Regions from separate parts of the Homo sapiens genome. Here all the other regions are reported to be linked to region 1. The links are microRNA targets in miRTarBase. Many come from high-throughput screens and were not tested one by one. Region 1 holds a microRNA gene; each other region holds the end of a gene's coding sequence.
The links. The annotated mature microRNA hsa-miR-4794 reads UCUGGCUAUCUCACGAGACUGU and lies in region 1 at 2,164-2,185, shown strand. An mRNA with a match to its seed (bases 2 to 7 or 8) in the 3' UTR can be bound and repressed. Matches are read on the target gene's strand: a 7mer-m8 pairs with bases 2 to 8, a 7mer-A1 pairs with bases 2 to 7 and ends in A, and an 8mer does both.

Region 2: the mRNA of TRMT10B is a reported target of hsa-miR-4794. Seed matches in the 3' UTR shown: 7mer-m8 at 480-486 and 7mer-A1 at 1,108-1,114.
Region 3: miRTarBase lists PACS2 as a target of hsa-miR-4794. Seed matches in the 3' UTR shown: 7mer-A1 at 2,494-2,500 and 7mer-A1 at 1,153-1,159.
Region 4: the mRNA of ZSWIM7 is a reported target of hsa-miR-4794. Seed matches in the 3' UTR shown: 7mer-m8 at 1,159-1,165 and 7mer-A1 at 1,809-1,815.

Annotation. Positions count from the first base shown.
Region 1 is chr1:64,577,692-64,580,772 of GRCh38, forward strand. It overlaps MIR4794 (microRNA 4794), which reads left to right and starts at 2,156; the gene lies at 2,156-2,232. The region is part of intron 2 of CACHD1 (cache domain containing 1); the gene reads left to right. It overlaps LOC124904195 (a long non-coding RNA gene), which reads left to right. Exons shown (of 2, transcript XR_007066150.1): 2 at 1-2,153.
Region 2 is chr9:37,777,378-37,780,458 of GRCh38, forward strand. TRMT10B (tRNA methyltransferase 10B) reads left to right here. Exons shown (of 9, transcript NM_144964.4): 9 at 224-1,595. The coding sequence ends at 330. EXOSC3 (exosome component 3) reads right to left here. Exons shown (of 4, transcript NM_016042.4): 4 at 2,337-3,081. Among named protein-coding and RNA genes, the nearest start is that of EXOSC3, 6.1 kb to the right of the region's middle.
Region 3 is chr14:105,394,313-105,397,393 of GRCh38, reverse strand. PACS2 (phosphofurin acidic cluster sorting protein 2) reads right to left here. Exons shown (of 25, transcript NM_001100913.3): 25 at 1-2,840. The coding sequence ends at 2,722. Among named protein-coding and RNA genes, the nearest start is that of TEX22, 2.7 kb to the left of the region's middle.
Region 4 is chr17:15,975,589-15,978,669 of GRCh38, reverse strand. ZSWIM7 (zinc finger SWIM-type containing 7) reads left to right here. Exons shown (of 5, transcript NM_001042697.2): 5 at 507-2,110. The coding sequence ends at 623. ADORA2B (adenosine A2b receptor) reads right to left here. Exons shown (of 2, transcript NM_000676.4): 2 at 2,924-3,081. Among named protein-coding and RNA genes, the nearest start is that of ZSWIM7, 23 kb to the left of the region's middle. RefSeq lists an enhancer at 1-117.

The DNA.
Region 1 (3,081 bases):
TAGTTGGCACTCAGCAGATGTTGGCATTTTTCTTAGTAAGGCAAGATAGAATGTTGCTACATGAAAGACTGGGGAATTTCTGACTGACAGCTGTGAATCCAAGTAGACAGAGCATGGATTTGACACCTTTTGTGAAGTGCCATAGGTGTTTGGACTCTGTATTCTTGGTACTTTCTGTCTCTATTGATGAAGAATGCAGCTGAAGGCCCACCCTAACCAGGAAGGCAAAGGCAGACATTCTACCCCGATCCCCCAGTAAAACACACCTCTGCCAGGGCTGCTCTCCCATCAACCAGTCACCCTGCAATCCCAAGGAAGATTCAGTTCCACAGCCAGCCCAGAGTTGAGGACCTTTTAACATTCTGCTCTTTGCCTTGTTTGATTATGTTAACAGAAATTCTCAGCCTGTGTGATTTGTCATATTTTAATATTTCAAGCCACCATTGCAGCTTCTTTTAGGTTTGGTTTGTCTGAGGCACCGCAGCGAGTGCATGAGCACACAGACTTTGAATTTGTATAAGTGAATGGCTCTTCCACTTACTTTGTGGCTTTGGGCTCATCACTTAACTCATTGATATAAAATGAGAATACCCACACTGTAAGGTCCTGGTAGCTATTAAAATTTTCTGAAGAACCCTGAAATCTCTTTGCAACAGATTTACAACTCACAGGGTACAATCTTGATAATTTTGATGATTTAGATGCAGTGCCTACATTTAGGAGCTTTGTTTCACCTGCTTCAATATGTATATCCTAGGATGGAATTCAGCTGATCCTGCATTTTCCAGTTTTCTGTTGTTGCATAACAAACCACCCAAAACTTAGTGGCATAAACAAACATGCTTACAAATTCTGTGGGTCAGGATTTTGACCAGGCACAGCAAGGATGGCTTATCTCTGCTTCATGATGTCCATGGCTTCATCAAGGGGCTACTCTGGGGGCTGAAATTATCTGGAAGTTTCTTGGTTCATGCCACAACTTGGGCTGGGATGACTTGGAAGACATGCTAAGCTGGGGAGCTGCCAACTAAGCACTGACTGTGGCCTCTCCATGTGTCTTGGACTTCTTACAGCTGCGTAGCTGACAGCTACCAAGAGTAAGCGTTCCAAGAGACAGGCATGTCCTTTTATGACCTAGCTTTAGGAGTCACGTAGTATCACTTTCTCTGTACTCCACTAGTAGAAGCCATCATAAGCCTACCCAGATTTAAGCAGTGGGGACAGGGGGACATGTAGACCCCACCTGCCAAAGGGTAGACCTGTTAAAGAATTTGTAGGAAATTTCTATAAAACCACTACACTAGGATTATGGCACCACACTGGGATTATGTTTCCATCTGGGGATAAATTAGGGCCGCTGGCTTCTACCTATAGCAAAGCAGGCCATACAGACTCTTGCAGCTACTTAATCTGCCATTGTAAAATGAAAGCAGCCGTAAACAATATGTAAACAAATGATCATGTTCCAATAAATATTAACAGTAAAATTAGAATTTCATGTAACTACTAAATATTAAAAATATTCTCCTTTAAAAAACATTTAAAAGTGTAAGAATCATTCTTAGCTCATGGCCTATGTAGAAAGAGGCAGTGGACCAGATTGGAATATCTTGAGTTTAGCTAGATCTGACTCTTCAAAGTTAGAATCCTCCAAATGTGTAGAAGAAACCCTTGGGTATTTCTCAAGTGGAATTAAGAGTGTGTGTGTGAGAGAGAAGGACATATGACTACAAATTTTGTTTTTATTTTAAAGTGAATTTGTGAAGATATTTCAAAATTTAGTTCTTTTAATTACATCTTATGTTCATTATGTTACAAAACATTTATTCCCAAGGGCAATAAAGGACTATGCACTTAATACTCCTATGTGGGAAATTAATGATATTTACTTTATCAGAAGTCAGGACCTACAAAGAAAAGGTAGAACTTGCTTCTTGATGGAGCTTCCAGAAATACATATTGTTGTATATTTTAAAAATAAGTATGTTTTAAAAGAGTTGATTATTAGAACAGAAGATAAGGTTGATGACTCTCAGGAATGAATTTTTAAAATCTTTATCACTTCATTAAATATTTTTTCTATGTCTATAATGCCAGGCAGTGTGCTAGAGCCTGAAGATACAGTGGTGAACAAAAACATATATCGTATGTTATCTTTTAACATCTGGCTATCTCACGAGACTGTATGTCCTAACAGTGCTTGTAGTCTCATGAGATAGCCAGATGTTAAAAAAAAAAAACAGCATCAAATTTAATGTGTGTTATGAGATGGCTTATGCAGGGCATTATGAGAATATAAGGTTTTCAAGCTGGGCCTATTGCTCTGACACCCTCTACTGCCCACTGAATGTGAAAGTCTAGGAAAAGAGGGTTGTTAGATTAGTTGCAAGCTGCTGTTTAAAAACCACGTTAACACGTTTGATAATGAGTGAATAGTCCTCTCTCCATATCTAGGCCACGTGTGATGGCCTGTTTAATATTGCTTTGGGGAAGGAAAAACAAAGAATGAAAAAAATTGCAGTTGTTGAAATGTACAGGATTTTTTTTCCCTGATAAGTTATCATTTTGGATGGGTGGAGAATTCAAATAGAAGAACAGTTTGGAACCTATTGACTGAATTACAAATTGGGATAATTTACTGATTTTTCTCTCAATCAAAGTTTTTCTGGGTGACAAAATCATTTGTACAGCAAACCCTAGTAACGTGCAATTTATCCATGTAACAAATGTGCTCATGTACCCCCGAACCTAAAATAAAAATTGGAAAAGAAAAAATAAATTGGTCAGAATCATACCCAAGAATAGCCCTTAAATAAAACATCTGGTTAATAATTATTTGACTGCAATCAGAGGATACTGCTAAAGATTTTTAGAGGACCCCTGAAAGGGTTATATTAATATCCTTAATAAAATGTGAATTTTTTGCTTAAAAAGTGATTTTCCAACACCTGTTAAAAAAGCAATCAATCGAGGTTTCAAGGTTTCTCATCTGGGCCATTAGTGGCATTTGAACCAGATAATTCTTGGTTTTGGGGTGCTGTCCTGTGCATTGTAGGATGTTTAGGAGAATCCCTGGCCTCT
Region 2 (3,081 bases), not on the chromosome of region 1:
CTTTCTGTTGCACCCTATCCATTCATAGGCCTGTATCTTTCAGGGTAGGCTGAGGTCCTTGAGAGCAAGCAGAGCCTGTGTCCTTGCCTCTCCCCGCAAGACCTTAGTACCACATATGGTGCAGAATAGGTTTGTTGAACGAAATATTACAGAACATCCTTTTCATTTACTCGTTCTTTTTTTCCCTCTGTGGTCACTGTGTTTTCTGTTTACTCTCTAACAGTGTTTGATATCCTGTCCACTTACTTAGAGACTCACAACTGGCCTGAAGCATTGAAGAAAGGAGTTTCTTCAGGAAAAGGCTATATTCTTCGGAACTCAGTGGAATGATGGGCCTAAGATTGCAGCTGCGTGGCCAGGTGCTCACGCCGTAATGCCAACACTTTGGTAGACCGAAGTGGGCAGATCACCTGAGGTCAGGAGTTCACGACCAGCCTGGCCAACATGGTGAAACCCTTCTCTACTGAAAATACAAAAATTAGCCAGGTGTGGTGGCGCATACCTGTAGTCCCAGCTACTTGGGAGGCTGAGGCAGGAGAATCACTTGAACTCGGGAGGCGAAGGTTGCAGTGAGCCGAGATTTCACCAGTGCACTCCAGCCTGGGTGACAGAGCAAGACTCCATCTCAAAAAAAAAATAAATAAAAAAAAATGCAGCTGCAGGAGTGAGGCGCTTGGAGGTACCTTGACCCAAAGAGCAGGGCAGAGGGTGGCAGTGGCACATAGGCAAGTGTCTTTGCATGACATCTTCTCAGAGCTTCACAATAATGTCAGGGACCACATTTAATGCTTTTTAATCTCCCATAGTGCCTGGCTCACAGGAAGTGCTCAGATATGTTAAGTAATAAAAAGTTAATGTGGTGGGTGCAGTGGCTCACGCCTGTAATCCCAGCACTTTGGGAGGCTGAGGTGAGTGGATTACAAGGTCAGGAGTTCCAGACCAGCCTGGCTAATATGGTGAAACCTCGTCTCTACTAAAAATACAAAAATTAGCTGGGCATGGTGGTGCGTGCCTGTAGTCTCAGCTACTCAGGAGGCTGAGGCAGGAGAATCGCCTGAACCCGGGCGGCGGAGGTTGTAGTGAGCCAAGATCCAGCCTGGGCGACAGAGCCAGACTCTTGTCTCGAGGGGAAAAAAAAAAAAAATTATGTAACAAGGAATTAGCCTCAAAACCACATGGCTTTGGACGTGCTAATTCAACTTTTGTACATCTATTTGTGAGAGACCTCTTGAAATTGTTTAAATGGTTACATCAAGAGTTTAATATTCACTAAACTGGCATCATAAAATTGTATGACTTTCTCCAGCCTTGTCTGATCATGCTCGTTGTTGCCCAGCTCAGTAATAAGCTTTGCAGGATCCAGCCTGTTCTGACCTATCCCTACTGAGTCCCCATAGCATTTTGTTCCCTCCTGTGGCTCTTACCTTGTTCTCCCTTGCAGAGTATGGGCATGGAGGGCTTCTCTTCCTAATCCTTCCTAATGGTAGGATCCTAACAGGACAAATCTGTGTACCTATCTTTCTATCCTCCCTGAGCCTGTACCAACTAGATTCTTCATATGTATTTGTAACAGATTAAATTGGAAAGCAAACACAGTATTGATTAAGTCTGTCTTGAAAATAGCTAGAAAGTGTTAGACACATGAACACGTTAGATAACCTACTTATTACACAAATCTCATGTTCCTTATGTCCCAGTTGGACATATTTGCTTCAGTTACTCTGACAGTTTGGGTTAACTTGCTAGTTAAGCAGCTAGCAAATTTGGGACATGTATTCAATATCTCAAAAGAACCAACAGATTACTTCTCTGCTGTGTCCCCTCCCCTTCACAATTTAATTCCTAAGGAACTGTTCACCTAATCAGTACTTTTCTATTTAAAAACTGGCTAGACAGTTCATAATAAAAGATATGGGACCAACCTAAGTACCCATCAACCAATGAATGGATAAAGTGTGGTATATATATCCCATGGAATATTAGCCATAAAAAATGTCTTTTGCAGCAACTTGGATAGTATTGGAAGCTATTATTCTTAGTGAAGTAACTCAGGAATGGAAAACCAAATACCAAATGTTCCCACTTTAAGTGGGAGCTAAGCTACAGGTAAGCACACAGAGTGGTATAACAGATACTGGAGACCCGGAACAGGGAAGGGGGAAGGATAAACTACATACTGGGTACAATATATAGTACTCAGGTGACTGGTACACCAAAATCTCAGACTTCACCACTATACAATTCATCCGTGTAATCCAAAACCACTTGTACCCCTAAAAGCTATTGAACTAAAAACCATCCAGTCCTTAGAAAACATTAGAAACACACGAAGCTCCTTGGTCTTTATCAACAAATAGAGTTCTATAATCTCTTTGATCCAAAAAGGACTTTCTATGGATAGGCTTCAGGGGATCTGTATCTCACATATTCTCAGAGGTCTAGAAACCAAGAATCACTGATGTGGATCACCTGGCAGTCTCTTTACCTCTAAAGGTTTTGGTTAATATACTAAATAGCATAGAAGAGTTTTCTATGCTTAGCTCCTAGGAAATGATTTTAGCAAAATAAGACTTGGCCAGATTTGGATTCAGAAATCCTCATAGTGTTATTTATATAATGATAAAACTCAAAAATATCCTGTAACATGAAATATGTGACTAAAGTTGTGAAATGTATCATGCTGTTTGAAGTAGACAAAAGTATATTACAAAGTGGCATATAAGCTATAATAACTATAATTTCAATTTGATGAATATAGAGAATGTAGGCCAAGTTAAATTCTGTGCCTCAGTTTCAATTATGAGGATAAGTGTCTTCTGCAGTTAGAATAAAGGAGTTAATCCATGCAAAACACAATACTTGGTAAATGAAAAAGTATTTCGTTGTTATATACTCACCCGCTGAATAATGGGACTACAGGTGACATTTCTTTGCTGCTTTATACTTAGGTATTCCACATTTCCTCTGGTGAACCTGGCTTACTGTTATAATCACAAAATTATTTTACTGCTGACCTCCAGTTAATTATGGAAGCTGTAGCAATTACTAAGGGAGTTAACTCCAAATAAACCCTAATACTGT
Region 3 (3,081 bases), not on the chromosome of region 1:
TCCAGGGCCAGGTTCTCGGGGGGTGTGCACACCTCACACACACATCCCCCGCCCTTACCGCACTGGCTGTCAGATGGCTTTGGTTTCTAGTTGTCCTTGGTGGGACAGAGTGCTCCTCCATGCACCCTCAGAACAGCTCTGTGAGGTAGGCAGGGAAAATGCGACCATCCTGTGTAACCAGTGGGAAAACCGAGGCACAGAGGGCTGGCATGGCCCAGGTCTTGTCTGCCCAACCTCCCTGGTGCTGGGCATGGTGTGGGGGATGGACCGTGGGGCTCCTGGGTGCAGGGCAGACCCACAGCCCAGCAGCAGCAGGGGCACAGGGAGTGCCACCAGAACCCCCAGCTGCTGGATGGAGACTCTGCCCATGTTCTCCCCTTGCGTGGCTAAGGATGGAGCTGTGCAGCCAGATGGGAGGTACGGGGTAGGCAGGAGGGCTCCAGGAAAGGGGCTGCCCACAGCCAGGATGCACTAGGCAGCCTGTGGCCCCTTCCTCTAAAACCTGCTCTGAGGCCAGAAAGCCACAGCAAGGATGTTTCCACCTTCATCTCCCTACTGAGTGTGACCCTTGGGAAAGAAACAGGAAGAGCAGGCAGGACGCGGTGACTCACGCCTGTAATCCCAGCACTTTGGGAGGCCGAGGCGGGTGGATCACTTGAGGTCAGGAGTTCAAGACCAGCCTGGCCAACATGGCAAAACCCCATCTCTACTAAAAATACAAAAAAAATAGCCAGGTGTGGTGGCACACGCCTGTAATCCCAGCTACTCGGGAGGCTGAGGCAGGAGAACTGCTTGAACCTGGGAGACGGAGGCTGCAGTGAGCTGAGATCATGCCACTGCACTCCAGCCTGGGCAACAGAGCAAGACTCCATCTCAAAAAAAAAAAAAAAAAAAAAGAAAAGAAACTGGAGAGCAGAAAAACAGATGCTCTGCAGCCCAGCTTGGGGGCAGCTGAACGAGTCAGTCAGGGTCCCACCTGTTGCCGGGGTCAGAGGCCATCAGCCCGGGGCTCACACCCTCACCGCAGACACTTCTCGGGGCAGAGCCTGAAGCCAGGATTCAATGGGAGACCTTCCTACCCTCTCCCCCACCCTGGGGTGTGCCCCAGGCTCCTGGTCCCAGGTGAAGGAGGAGTCCCTGGTGTGGAGGGGCTCTGGCTGGGAGGGGCTGGGGCTCTGCCTCCTGCACACAGGCTACCTCTGAGGCCTGAACCCAGGGAGCTGAGGCTGCACACCAGGCCACATCCTGGCCCCTCACCACAACAAAATCACCCTGTTCAGCCACCTGGGGGGGGCGGCCAGGAAGAGCAGGGCGGTCACAAGTAAGAAATGTGGGCCATCTCTCAGGCCAGCAAGGGTGGAGACCCCTCCAGCCCCGGCTCGAGGCCCACCCTGCCCTGCGTTTGCTTTCTGAGCATGGCCTTTTGCAGTGCTCCATCTTACGAAACCAGGCCAAGAGCCCCCAGGGTCGATCAGGACCCCTGGGAGGGCCCCAGCTTCCCCAGCTCCTCCTATGGAGACCCCACAGTGCAGGCTTACTGGGGAGAAGCAGGACTGAGGGGGCAGGTGTGGTCAGGGAAGCCCTCTCCTGCTGTGTGGAGGGCATGGAACCCACACACAACATGGGACCCAACACGCTCTGAGGACTGTGGCCTGGAGAGCCTCCCAGGCCCTGCACGGGGTACCTGGCTGCACCCACGGCTCCAAAGTGCCGGCCCCGCTGGTCAGGCCATCCCGCTGGAATCTTCATTGGCTACAGCGTTGCAGCAGGTGACACAAACACATCTGGACGCCTGCCCCATATTCACCAAAACCTGAATCTCAACCCAGATATCCCCATGGCTGACCTCAGACATACCCACTGGGGTGGAGGAAGTGGCCCCCACCTCAGGCCAACCCCAGCAGCATCTCACTATGTACCAAGCTGGGCTCTGGAACATTTTCTGGGGCCACCTGGGCTGTGGAGGCCCCTGTGCTTGCTAAGTTTGGGGCAGGGACTACACGCAGAAGCCTCATGGTGTTTCAAGAACAGCCTGAGAGTGGGGAAGGTGTGAGGCGGGGTGGGGCAGGGGCTGGGGAAGTGGGGGCAGGCTCTGCTGGCTCTGCCCAGCCCCAGGGGGACTTCAGAAGAGCAACATGTTTGGCAGCTACATTAGAACATGTATTGAAAAGCATTAAAAATATCTGCTGCTATAAAACCTCCGCCGCAGGCAGGAGTTTATTGGGAACCACGAGTGTGCGGTGCTGGGGGCATCTCTTAGGCGGGCAGGACGGCCCCCCCAGGCTCAACTCAGGACAACCCCAACGGGACTGAGCGGCCCCATGGCCCTCGGCCTGTGGCCACTGAGCTCCGCCTTCCCCGGGCTCCCTGAGGAAGCAGAGTCCTGACTTCCAGGAAGGACAGGACACAGAGGCAAGAACTCAGCCTGTGAGGCTCTGGGTGGCTCCTGAGGCCAGAGGACGCCTTCCGCGATCCATGGCTCAGCATCGTCCTTCTGGCTTCCCAGCCCCGGGCCGAACGTTCGGGTTAATAAGCAGAGCAGTTATTCGGCTCCTGGCAGGAGCTCCCCCGTTAGTTTCCACGTTGTGAGCACATTCATACTTAAGACTGTTTCTCTTTGTGTTTTAAGCGTCTGTCTCTGTAGTAAACTGAAATGTTAACAGAAATGCAGCTGGGCCCCTCACAGCATGGGGCAGGAGGTGGGCCCCCTGGTGGGTGGGGCTAGAAGGTGGCCTTGGAGTGTCCGAAGATGCAGATGGGGAAGTGCTTCACGTGCGAGGACCACTGCGCGGCCAGCTGGAAGAACTTGACGTCGCTGCACTCCACGCCGTCGATGAGGACTGTGGGAGAGGGCTGCCTGACCGCCTGCCCCCCTGCCCGGCCTGCCCACCCTATCCACCTGCCTGCCTGGCCCACCAGGCTGGGTGGCAGCCGGGCGTACAGGATGAGAAGGAGCCCCATGCTGGAGGGCATCAACACTTTCCTCAGGGACTCGGGGGCTCCAGGGCCATGCTGGCTCCTGAGGGACGCCATTCCTGCCCCTGCCCTCCACACTCAGAGCCCTGGGGGGTGGGGAGGGCA
Region 4 (3,081 bases), not on the chromosome of region 1:
TGTCCACTCTGATTTCTAAAGAGAATACTCCTGTCTCATCATCTTTATCTGCAGTTTTTATTTATTTATTTTTTGAGACAGTCTGGCTCTGTCACCCAGGCTGTAGTGCAGTGGCGTGATCTCGGCTCACTGCAACCTCCACCTCCTGGGTTCAAGCGATTCTCATGGCTCAGCCTCCTGAGTAGCTGGAATTACAGGCATGTACCGCCACACCCAGCTAATTTTTGTATTTTTAGTGGAGACAGGGTTTTGCCATATCAGCCAGACTGGTCTCGAACTCCTGATCTCAAGTGATCCATCCGCCTCAGCCTCCCAAAGTGCTGGGATGACAGGTGTGAGCCACCATGCCCGGCCCATCTGCACTTTTTAGACAATCAGTTAGAGACCCCGTAATCTGTATGCTCTAGTCTTCTCCTGCCAAATAAGATGGTAATGAGAAATCTTGGTTAGACTGGCCAGCCCTGGCCCTGCCTGTTTCTAATAGGTGTGTGTGTTTTATATTCCAGTGCAAGCATCTCTTGGCAGTTTACCTGAGTCAGGTTATGAGGACCTGTCAGCAGCTAAGTGTCTCTGACAAGCAGTTGACTGACATATTATTGATGGAGAAGAAACAAGAAGCATAAAAGGTACAGATTGAGCATCATTCTTTCAAAATAGAATCCTGTCAAGAAATGCATTGAAAGCGTCATGATTCACATGGAAAAGAGGTGAAATGGATCTTCAGACACTTCATGTTACTGTCCCTTTTCCCTCCAGGACTGCAGGAGGTGCTGTGGGTTGGAGCCGTGGGCTGTGGAGGGTTTGTGTATGATGAGAAGCCCTGTACAGTCTTGTCAAGAAATACCCTGAGCCAGTCTCTGAGACGCTTCGGTAAAAAATGTCCCTGGATGGAATCAAGATTTTAAATTCAAATAAAGCCTAATATCATGTTGTGTCCACATTATTTAGTCTTTTTTTTTTTCTTTTGAGATGGAGTCTCACTTTGTCGCCCAGGCTGGGGTGCAGTGGCGTGATCTCAGCTCACTGCAAGCTCCGCCTCCCGGGTTCACGCCATTCTCCTGCCTCAGCCTCCCGAGTAGCTGGGACTACAGGTACCCGCCACCATGCCCGGCTAAATTTTTGTATTTTTTTTTTAGTAGAGATGGGGTTTCACCGTGTTAGCCAGGATGGTCTCCATCTCCTGACCTAGTGGTCTGCCCGCCTCGACCTCCCAAAGTGCTGGAATTACATGCATGAGCCACTGCGCCTGACCCTATTTAGTCTTAAGTAACTAACTGAATTACTAGTAATTTTTAAAAGGTTGGAATGGTGGGCCAAACAGTAAGATGAAGTTTCGACGAGTAGGTCAGTTCTTTTCCTTGGGTCCAGGAAACTATTGAGCAGCAACAGAAGATCAGAGCAGAGATGTGGCTAAACAGTAGCAGGTATGAAAAGACTTAGAGGTTCTGGTTTCTGTAAGCTTCAAATATCTGTGATGCTTGTGCCAAAACAGCTTAAGTAGACTGTATTGTTTGAGAGTTAGTATCGAGAACAAGGGAAGAACTGGTTTCACTCTGCACTTCTGATCTTTACAACAGGGCAATTGAAGGAACAGACTAAAAATCGTGTCCTGGAAGGAAACTACAGGTACTACCAGGGATTTTCAGTCTGAAGAAGAAAAGACAAAATAGATGACAGAAGGAGTATTAGAAGGGAGAGCGATGAGACTCAGTTGGACACCGAGAGAGCAAAGAAGCAATAATACGTGAAGATGAAAATGAAATCAATTTCAGCATAAGAAGACAAGAACTTATGGTAAAGCTGCCCACAGCCAGAAGAGGATCCTAGAAGGACAGGAATTCCCTGTCTGCAGCATTTCATAAGCATGTAATATTGTTGCAGGGATACTGCAGAAGGAGTTGAAGCAGTGGACAGACAGATGATATAGGTGATTTTACAGCCTAAGAAAGCCCTGTGCTTGTGCCCCCAAAACATGAGGTGCTAGTGAATGAATGCTGGGGGAAAGCCCAGGGCCTAGGTGTTGCAATGTTCTGTGGTTGGCAGATGCTTTTTGTTTTGTTAAAAAGTGCAACAGATAAAATTTATCAATACTTTTCTGCTACTCAGGAAACTTGGACTCAGCATAACTTACTTTTTTTCCAGCAGCCTTCAGGGTAAAGTTTAGAAGGTAGATGCAACAAGCCAATGCAGCACCCTAAGCTTGTCTTTTTAAGTTTTATTTTTATTTAACCTAATATACACAGAGTTAAATAATTTTACTTCATAAAATTTTCACACTTTGAGTTCCAAGAACTTAACCAAACTTGAAATTTGGAGAGAAGCAAAATTCCCTATCTATCTATCTAGCTCTAGAAGGCAGAATTTGGTAGAGGAGGGATCCCATTTCACCAGTTTCTTCCCCACGGGTAGTTTTCTGTATATGGAAAAGAATGGAGCTTAAAATTATGTGATGAAAATTTGACTTATGAGACTATCAATCAATCATTTCCCTAAATTAATACAGCAGTTTCTTGATTGAATACTTTATTTATATATATATATATATATATATATATATATATATATATATATTTTTTTTTTTTTTTTTTTTTTTTTTTTTTTTCTGAGACAGAGTCTCACTCTGTCACCCAGGCTGGAGTACAGTGATGCCATCTGGGCTCACTGCAGCCTCCGCCTCCCAAGTTCACATGATTCTCCTGCCTCAGTCTCCTGAGTAGCTGGCACATGCCACATACCCAGCTAATTTTTGTATTTTTTAGTAGGGACGGGGTTTCACTATATTGGACAGGCTGGTTTTGAACTCCTGACCTCGTGATCCGCCTGCCTTGGCCTCCCAAAGTGCTGGAATTACAGGTGTGAGCCACCATGCCCGGCCGAATAATTATACTTTTAATTTTTGAGGTCACCTTCCTGGCAACAAGTATACATTTTTAGTACAGTCAACTTTTATTTTTCCATTGCCTCTAAGTTAAAAAGTATTTGCATTATAATAGTTCACACTGTTTCACAGTAAAATAGTTTCAGTAATTTTCCACCATAAACAAGGCAGACTTTTAAAAACAAAAGAGTCTGTTAGAATCC